Regions from separate parts of the Homo sapiens genome. Here all the other regions are reported to be linked to region 2. The links are microRNA targets in miRTarBase. Many come from high-throughput screens and were not tested one by one. Region 2 holds a microRNA gene; each other region holds the end of a gene's coding sequence.

The links. The annotated mature microRNA hsa-miR-5585-5p reads UGAAGUACCAGCUACUCGAGAG and lies in region 2 at 2,236-2,257, shown strand. An mRNA with a match to its seed (bases 2 to 7 or 8) in the 3' UTR can be bound and repressed. Matches are read on the target gene's strand: a 7mer-m8 pairs with bases 2 to 8, a 7mer-A1 pairs with bases 2 to 7 and ends in A, and an 8mer does both.
Region 1: miRTarBase lists MED13 as a target of hsa-miR-5585-5p. Seed matches in the 3' UTR shown: 7mer-A1 at 2,945-2,951 and 7mer-A1 at 1,305-1,311.
Region 3: miRTarBase lists TRIQK as a target of hsa-miR-5585-5p. The part of its 3' UTR that is shown has no 7-base or 8-base seed match.

The regions. Positions count from the first base shown.
Region 1 is chr17:61,943,400-61,946,622 of GRCh38, forward strand. MED13 (mediator complex subunit 13) reads right to left here. Exons shown (of 30, transcript NM_005121.3): 30 at 1-3,201. The coding sequence ends at 3,069. Among named protein-coding and RNA genes, the nearest start is that of INTS2, 17 kb to the left of the region's middle.
Region 2 is chr1:32,084,714-32,087,977 of GRCh38, forward strand. It overlaps MIR5585 (microRNA 5585), which reads left to right and starts at 2,236; the gene lies at 2,236-2,294. All of the region lies in intron 5 of TMEM39B (transmembrane protein 39B), which reads left to right.
Region 3 is chr8:92,884,196-92,887,447 of GRCh38, forward strand. It overlaps TRIQK (triple QxxK/R motif containing), which reads right to left. Exons shown (of 5, transcript NM_001171797.2): 5 at 1-2,540. The coding sequence ends at 2,427. Among named protein-coding and RNA genes, the nearest start is that of TRIQK, 80 kb to the right of the region's middle.

The DNA.
Region 1 (3,223 bases), not on the chromosome of region 2:
ATTAAAGATCTGCAAATCTTTGTAGTAACACATTAAGTTAAAAAATTACCTCAGAAGGTAAATATGAAGACGAAAGGAGAATATTTTAATACAGTAATCTGTGCCATACTGACAATTGAGTACGAATACAGCTGAGGATAGTTGACTAAGTAGTAAGAGCTTAATTTTAGTGGTTTAAGAAAAGTTTAGAAATATTTAAAAATTACAGCTACTTTAAAATTTAAGGATTACATATAAGTACACTTGGTGGCCTTCTGGCCAAACAATAAGGTGTACAGAAATTTATTCATACAGTGTTAATTCACAGTCCTGATAACTCAATGGCTTGCATAAGAAAGGTATGGCTAGATGTTTCTCACTGGCTGGAAGCAGACATTATATAACTAATCTTTTTAAATGACAAAATACTGAACTTCCACCCTGCTTAATAATCATGGATACCTGCACAAAAAAAAAGATGTTAGCACTGTAACAAAGAAGTCAAGGTGTTGGTAATCCACTGCTATAAAGTATAATATTTTGCTTACCTATTTAAACAAAACTACCCATATTTGTCTGTGACAGTACATTAGTAAGTCAAATCCATCATCCTGCACAAGGCTTAATTTCTCAAATAAGTCTACTGAGCTTTTCTAATGGTTATTTAATAACTTTCCATTGAGTTTGAATGGATATATGAAGGGAAGAAAAAAAATCTTATCAATAAATCCTGTATATTTGGGAACTATTCCCTGATTCCCAAATAAAAAATAATTGTGTACTGGGTTCCCTCCTTATGGCTCCATATTAAATAACCTGTCAGGGAATAATTTTAAATCTACTTTCAAATTGAGGTGTGGTTATCATAGGTTAGTGATTTTAAACAACTGAGAATATAACTTTTATTTTGTAAAGTCACTATTAAGTGTATAAAAAGGATACTCTTTTTATGGAAATTCCAAATAAGCACATTTTCCTTCAAATCTCAGACAAGTTTTTTTTTTTTTTTTAAAGAAAGTACAGAACAAAACATACCAACATAATGTGTGGTGTATTAGCATAATTTAAAAACAAATGCAGAGAGGTGATCTTTAAATTTAATATCAAAATATGCTGACCATTAGAACTGCATTATAATTTTGAAGAAATGATTGACAACCTTTGTCACCAATTGTGTTTGCTTCATAGAAAAAACAAGACTTGCTAATGTTTTCATATACACAATCTGAAGAAGTTATGTTGTTCATAAGAAAGTGATATTTAATTCTAAGCACAGAGTATTCACAAAAACAAGTTTCAGTAAAAAAAAAAACTAAAACAAACACTGAAGTAGAGTTTTGTAAATACAACTGATTTTGTCCTTGTAGATAATTAGTGAACGTACAAATAGAAATTTTGCTAGACTGCTTCCAAGAAAGCTAGGTAGACTCGGCGACTGTGAATTCAAGTCAGCAATGCAGGTAGGAGGCGAACTTGGGCTCTTTTGTGAGCAGCACTGTAGAAAGGATTTTTCAAGGGGGTACAGCCTGCATAAAAGCAGTTATCTTGGCATGTGCAAACAAGAAGGGGGAAAGTTGTATTGAAGGAGGGGTGAATTAAAGTCCCTAAAATTCAAGTCCCTTCTTTAGGGAGGTGAGAACCTCCTTGGCATATGCCCTACCTTAATCTGAGCTGTGTTATAGAAAAGTACAGACTCTGGTGTTTGGGACTGACATCTCCAAACCAAGAAAATTAAATAAATAAAAAAGGCAAGGGAAGTTTAAAAAATGGTTCTTTCACTAGTGGAATAGAGTCTGAATACCAGAATTCACTGAGAATCTATTTACACCACAGTTTGATTGCGCGCACACACACACACCCATACATATGCATACTCTCACATACATTCCCAATCTTTAATTTAAAAAAAAAAGTCAAACAATCAAGAATGACTGCTTGAAAAATAATTTGTAAAATGCCTAGAGCTGGGCTAAATTTCAACCTTATAGCAGATCCTGAAAATAAATTTCATAATAATATTTCCATGCCTAAATATGCCACTGTTAAAACTGAAAAAAATTTAAGCATGTAACATTAAACACTAAAATTAGTTTAAGCATTCAGTAGCAAATGGTTTTTCTTGTAAAACTAAGTTTCTTTCACCGGAAATGGCCTGAAATATTAGTCATAGCCCTAAACCATAGTACAAAATATAACTGAAGAATTCTCATTTTATTCTAAGTTAAACCACCTAACAATACCACTTGTATATTGCCATCATGTTATTCTGTAAAGATGTGATATATAAAATGCTGTAAGACCTGGTACCTTTTCAATTTATAAACACAGTGAACTTCATTACTGTACATGTACTCTGCAACTACAGCTTAGCTGTAAATCCTCCACACACAATGGTATGGACATTATTCCCCCTCTATCCCCGTTAAACTGTACATCGAGACAATACAAATTTACTGTCCCACCCACCCCCTTACAAAAAAATAATACTCTAAAAGCAACCCTACTGCAACTTTTTAATTAAGACGATTACATATATTTTAGACCAATTGCTTTAAAGCAAGAAGGCAGTATAAACCTTCTAGGAAAATTTTTATAAAAGAGGTTAAGAAATATAAGACAATTTATACATTTAAAAACTTACAATAAATAAGAGAAGAGATGCAGGCATTTTTGAATACTAGATACTATAATCCATACAAGAACATCTTCATGTTCTGAAGCCATATGTTGAAATTCATTGTTCCTCATGTTTCCTCTCCATGCTTTTAATATTCATTTAACATGACTGGGTACTATGGCTCATTACTTTTCACAAATACTGTGACTGGAAAAAAAAAAGGTTAATTTTGCTACGAAAATGTTATAATACGTTTTGTATGATCAGTCATCATCCTAAAGAGTTCAATAGAGTCAATGAAAAATAGCAGGGTTATAGCCCCTCCCCCCAAGTCAAAACAATATTTGTTGAAGTAATAAGAATTAGACCCCATCACAAATGACCTTCACTGAGAAGATAATTGTAACTTAATCCTGCAGCGAAACATCCATTTTTCCTTGTTCTTTTCTTGCACAGTTCCATCAAATGAAGATCACAGCATATTCATAATAAAGTTATATAACTGATTCAGCACCACAAAATGAATTGGGAGACATGAGCGTCTGTCCTGGGTTGCAGGGTCACAGGTTAGCCAGGAGAGTGCATTGTACTGTTCCAAAACAAACCTGAAAAGCAAATAAACTGCAT
Region 2 (3,264 bases):
CACGCCACCATGCCCAGCTAATTTTTGTATTTTTAGTAGAGACGGGGTTTCACCATGTTGGTCAGGCTGGTCTCAAACTCCTGACCTCGTGACCCACCCACCTCAGCCTCCCAAAGTGCTGGGATTACAGGTGTGAGCCATCGCACCCAGTCTCAGTGTAGATTTCTAAGTTCAAATTCACATTCTCAGAACTTTTGCAGTTATTATTCCATTGTCTCTAGTATCCAGTGTTGCTAGTGAGAAGTCTGGTGCCAGTTTGAGTTTGATTCCAATTCTTTTATAGATGACTTGTATTTTCCTTTCTGAAAGCATTGAGGAATATTCTGTTTATCTTTTGATTACTTGAAATTTCAAAGGATGTGTCTGTTGTGGGACGTTTGTCATTCATCCTTTCAGGACTCTAGGACTTTTTTAACCTGGAGATTTGAGTACTTCTTTAGCTTGGGGAAATTTTCCTTTGATATTTCTTTGATAATATCTTCCTTTTAATTTTTTCTATTATCTCTGGATTTCTGTTCATCAGATGGTAGACCTCATAGATTGGTCATCTTTTTCTCCTATATTTCTCTAATATTTAATCTCTCTCTCTCTCTCTCTTTGTATGTGCATTGCCTTTGGAGAGATTTCCTCAACTTTATCTTCTAGCTTTTTTACTGAGATTTTTTCAGCAATCATATTTTTCATCTCTAAGGCCTCTATGTTTGCTGATTGTTCTTTTCTCATAGCATACTATTCTTGTTTTAAAAATCTCTTATTTGGCTGGGCGTGGTGGCTCACGCCAGTAATCCCTGCACTTTGGGAGGCCAAGGTGGGTGGATCACAAGGTCAGGAGTTCAAGACCAGCCTGGCCAACATGGTGAAACCCTGTCTCTACTAAAAATACAAAAATTAGCTGGGTGTGGTGGTGCATGCCTGTAATCTCAGCTACTCGGGAGACTGAGGCAGGAGAATTGCTTGAACCCGGGAGGTGGAGGTTGCAGTGAGCTGAGATTGCGCCACTGCACTCCAGCCTGGGCAACAGAGCGAGACTCTGTCTCAAAAAAAAAAAAAAAATTCCCTTATTTTCCTCAATTTTGTCTTTTCACTGGGGTCAATTTTTCTGTTTCATGCTGCTTGTTTTCCAAGTATAGTTGGCTTGTTTGCTTGTCTCTTTATATGTAAAAATGAAGGACTGAGTAGCAGGAGTGCAGTTTCTTTCTCTCTGTCATTGTTTAAGGGGGTAAGAGCTTTGACTGGAAACTTTAAGTACATGGGCAGGGCACACTGACTGGCAGGCTTTGCTTTGAGGATGAGTGAGTGAAGTGCTGGTTGTTAGGCTTTGAGCCTCCGTAGGCCAGAAAGGGAGTGGTGGGGGTGTTACTCTAAGATATCGCCATTAGAGACCTCAATTCTCAGTTTACTCAATTTCTTTAGAAAAGAATCCTTCAGGGTGTGTTGTATGAGGTGAGTAGGGGAATAAAGGGACTGACTCTTATAAATAAACATAGGTCATTGTTTAATCCCATTTATTCATACCTGCTCCCCACTTCATCTTCTATCATATGTGCCCACTTCAAGGCAGAGTCTCTCTTGGGTCACTCTGGGTAGATAAGCTCCCACCTCCAGTCCAGTTCGCTCATGCCATATTCTAGACTTGTACCGTCCAGTTGAGTAGCTACTAGCCCCCCTGGTTATTGAGCACATGAAATAGGGTAGTCTGAGTTGAGATGTGCTCTAAGTGTAAAATACACACCGATTCTGAACCCTTAGTACACACACAAAAAAGAAAGTAGGCTGGGCATGGTGGCCCATGCCTGTAATCCCAGCACTTTGAGAGACTGAGGCAGGCGGATGGCTTGAGCTCAGGAGTTTGAGACCAGCCTGGGCAACTTGGCAAAATGCCATCTCTACCAAAAATACAAAAATTAGCTGGGCATGGTAGCCTGCACCTGTAGTCCCAGCTACTTTGGAGGCTGAGGTGGGAGGATGGCTTGAGCCTGGGAGGTGGAGGTTGCAATAAACTGAGATTGCACCACTGCACTCTAGCCTGGGAAACAGAGCCAGGCCCTGTCTCAAAAAAAAAAAAAGAGAGAGAAACTGAGGCTGGGCACAGTGGCTCACACCTGTAATCCCAACACTTTGGGAGGCCAAGGCAGGGTGGATCAGGCCCAGGAGCTTGAGACCAGTCTGGGCAACATGGCAGAACCCTGTCTCTACAGAAAATATAAAAATTAGTTGGGCATGGTGGCACGCACCTGAAGTACCAGCTACTCGAGAGGTCAGAGGATTGCTCCTGAATAGCTGGGACTACAGGTGTGTGCCAGCACCTGAGCCTAGGAGGTAGAGGCTGCAGTGAGCCATGATTATGCCACTGCCCTCCAGCAGCCTGCGCAACACAGCAAGACCCTGTCTTAATTAAAAAAAAGAAAGTAAAACATCTCAAAATATTCATTATATGTTGAAGTGATAGTATTTGCATGTATTGGGTTAAGTAAAATAGAATCTTAAAATTAATTTCAGGAGGCTGATGCAGGAGAATCTCTTGAACCCGGGAGGGGGAGGTTGCAGTGAGCCGAGAATGCACGACTGTACTCCAGTCTGGGGCACAGAGTGAGACTCCGTCTCACAAAAAAAAAAAAAAAAAAAAAAGGCCGGGTGCGGTGGCTCACACCTGTAATCCCAGCACTTTGGGAGGCCAAAGCGAGCGGATCACCTGAGGTCAGGAGTTCGAGACCAGCCTGACCAACATGGAAAAACCCCGTCTCTACTAAAAACACAAAATTAGCCAGGCGTGGTGGTGCATGCTTGTAATCCCAGCTACTAGGGAGGCTGAGGCAGGAGAATCGCTTGAACCTGGGAGGCAGAGGTTGCAGTGAGCCGAGATCATGCCACTGCACTCCAACCTGGGCGACAAGAGTGAAACTGTCTCAAAATAATAATAATAATAATTTCATCTCTCTTTTTTTTTTTCTTTTTTTTTTGAGACGGAGTCTGTCACCCAGGCTGGAGTGCAGTGGCACAATCTCTGCTCACTGCAAGCTCCGCCACCCAGGTTCACACCATTCTCCTGCCTCAGCCTCCCGAGTAGCTGGGACTACAGGCGCCTGCCACCACGCCCGGCTAATTTTTTGTATTTTTAGTAGAGACGGGTTTTACTGTGTTAGCCAGAATCGTCTCAATCTCCTGACCTCGTGATCCATCCGCCTCAGCCTCCCTAAGTGCTGGGATTACAGGCATGAGCCACCACACCTGGCCCATCTCTTCTGTTTTTTAATGTGGCTAAAT
Region 3 (3,252 bases), not on the chromosome of region 2:
CACCAGTAGGTATTCAAAAGTGTGGTCCCTTTAAAACAGCAGGCCGGATATCACCTTTCTGTCTTCAAAGATTCAAACCAGACTCCCAATCTGGGATTTCTCTACAGAGGGTTGGCTGCTTCCCAGTTAATGTGAGTTTTGCAAAGTTTGCATTTCATGAAAACAGTGTTGTGTAAACATATATTGTGTCACTTTACCTACTATTTACTAAAATCAGAGAGTTTAGCCTTTGAAATTTATGGTTCTCTGGAGCTATCATAAATCAATCAGTCATACGAATGGACTAGCTGTAGACTCAGGATATCAATAAAACTAGGCAGTGAAATTTGCCTATAATTATACTATATTTAGATTAATAGTTATCAAAAACATTTTTCCCCAAAAAATACCTCAAGGGTAAAACAGAATGGTAAAGTTTTTTTCAGGATAATGAATTTTCAAACATTTCCAAGACCATAACCAGCCATTTTAAGTACTGTAAACTCTGTTATATTTCATTTGGATAAGTATCTAATAAGCAATTATTACATATCCTCTCATTTAAATTACCACTGAAAACTAGAAATAATCTTTATTTAATACGACTGTTTTAACACCATATGGAACGGGAAATAACTAAATGAAAATTGTTCACGTAAATGTGATGGGAGTGGGGGGGTGGGGAGCAGTATTTCTTGACATGTGGCATGTCACTCAGGAAAGTAAAAGGCCCATCATATCCAAAATGCCAGCTTGGATATTCCCTTGCCACCCACTTGACGAACAGACATACCACATGGCATTAAATGCTGCAACCTTTCCTAAAAATGCCACTTGGATTGGTCCGCTGTGGTGAGTATATAAGAACTCTTGGTCTGTCTCTTGAGTCTGTGAGTTCAAAGGGAAGAATCTAGTAAATAACACCGGCTAAATTTTGCCCTCAGATGTTTGGCATAAATGATTTGTGAGGATATTGGAACCTTTGGCTGTTTTCACACCAATGAAATAAATTATGCTACTTGAAAAAAATTCTACAGAACATAATGCTACACAGTCACAGTCGACTTTTTGCAAAAGTACCAGAGAATATCTTTTAGAAACAGTGCTTATAAAGCCCCATATACTCCTTAGATATTTCCCAAGGATTTCTTCTCTTGGCTAGCAGGAAAACAATCTTAATATTTTATTTATTCTTCATAAATACAATGTATATAATATAAAACACTTTGTGCACATGTTTCCAACAATTTCATTTTCTATGCATCTTTACATAAGGTAGTAGCTAATAACTCTTTCTGTGGACACGTATTTTCCAGTTTTCTAAGGTTTATGTGTTCAAGCATTGTAAAAACATATTTAAAAATTGAATTACCAGTAAAAATATTGAATGTACAGGTCATTATGCTCCCACAAATACAAAATACATTGAAAAATTATATCAACAGATAATTACATATGAAATATGAGGCATATATTTTCTTCTATTATTTATTTTCTCCCTAAAGAGTTCTAATTGATTAAATCTCAAGAGACAAAATGTAATTTTATAAAACAACTGTATTGTTCAGATTTAGGAGACAACCTAAGAAGATGATTCTGAGTAGGTAGGATTTTTGCTATTACTGTTATGTGAAAAAGACTGCTCAATTAAATGACAGATTGTTACATATCTCCCTAACAAGAGGGGCGAACTGATACTACAAGCAGCCAGAACAACATAATTAGAATAGAATTCCAAGGTTATATTAATAGAGTAATAAGTTAATTAAAACCAAGATCAACTGAGCTTCTATTTACACCAGTTCAGACAGCCCAAGAGGAAAAGAACTCTATTTTAGAGACATATGTGACTCTTTGAGCTTCTGTCATCCAGGTGCCATTTCTGATGCAGCACATGTGCACTGAACAGTTGGCAAAGAAGGAAAAAGATTATGGTAGATGTATGTGCAGATAGTCTCTCTAATGATGTAAAATACGTCCAGAAAGAAAGCAGGGCTTTGTTGTAAAATAAAAAATTTCCCATGACTTTTTGTTCTTTCTGAATGTGATTTGAGCATGTTTCTGTAAATAAGAATATATACTAACTTATGATGTATATAGAACAAAAATAGACTTACTCATCAGGAAGTGATGGAATTATACACATAAATTGGCAATGACATTTGAAAAATTTAGGATCTGGTTCCCATTTCATCTAAATGTACCATGTATAGGGTGGCTGTCAAAGCAGAAAGATATATAAAAGTATCCAGTAGCACATACTATACTGCATTGCTAGGTAAGGTTCTTTTCCTGACATCCTATGCAACTATCAAAAATCATATGTCTGCAAACTGAAAATATTAGCAGAAAGAATTAAAGATGTTACAGTTTCAGTATTGAAAGTTTTGGTCCCAAAAGGTGCTTTCGTAAAGTTATTTCTCTTTCATGCATTGATTGTTGCTTAGCTAATCTTCATCTTGGTCCAGATCAGGGTCAACATCCGTGGTGAGTCTGAGATAAAAGAAAGCATAGAAAGCCAGTAGTAGTGCCAATATAGCTGCAAGTACAAGGCCAACTTCCTGGGAAGAAAAAAAAAGTAGACTTGAAATTGATGAAAAAAGATTGGTTAACATTATTAGTTTCACCAGATAAAATAACCATATTGTTCCACAGTCTAGAATGAATAATTTGAACCTAATAATCATATCCTTTTTGTTTACCATTTTTTGCCGTTAAGAAACTGTTTTGTACTGGCAAGTCCCAATGAAATGGCAAATACACCAGTGGGTGAGTCATTAGTATTATTATTTCTAGCTAATTTGTTTTTTCCTTATAGTAATATTAAAAATGTATCATTTTAATATATTTTTATAGTTTGGATATCAGGATGTTCGATACAAGCAATGCAGTTTGTATCTACACAGTTGATCTGTTTTCTATTTGAGTGTGTTTAACTTTATTTGTGGCTTCAATACATTCAGTATTAATGATAGCATTTGGGCACAGTTTTTTTTTTAATTATCATTCCTTTTCATTGTAAAGAAACAGTTGTAACTGGTCTCTAGATTATATATAGATGTATACATACTCATTAAATGTGACTTTGTTGAAACTCTAATTTTTAAATCCTAAAGTCTATAGTTTACACTGCAGAGGAACAAAACAAAGTACTCTTCACTCATGAAGCATAATACAATACATTTATCACAGTTTTGAAGGATGGGCCCAGATTTTTCATTTGTGATGTGATGTGGATTAAATTAATCAACTATATTGTAATAATGATAAAAA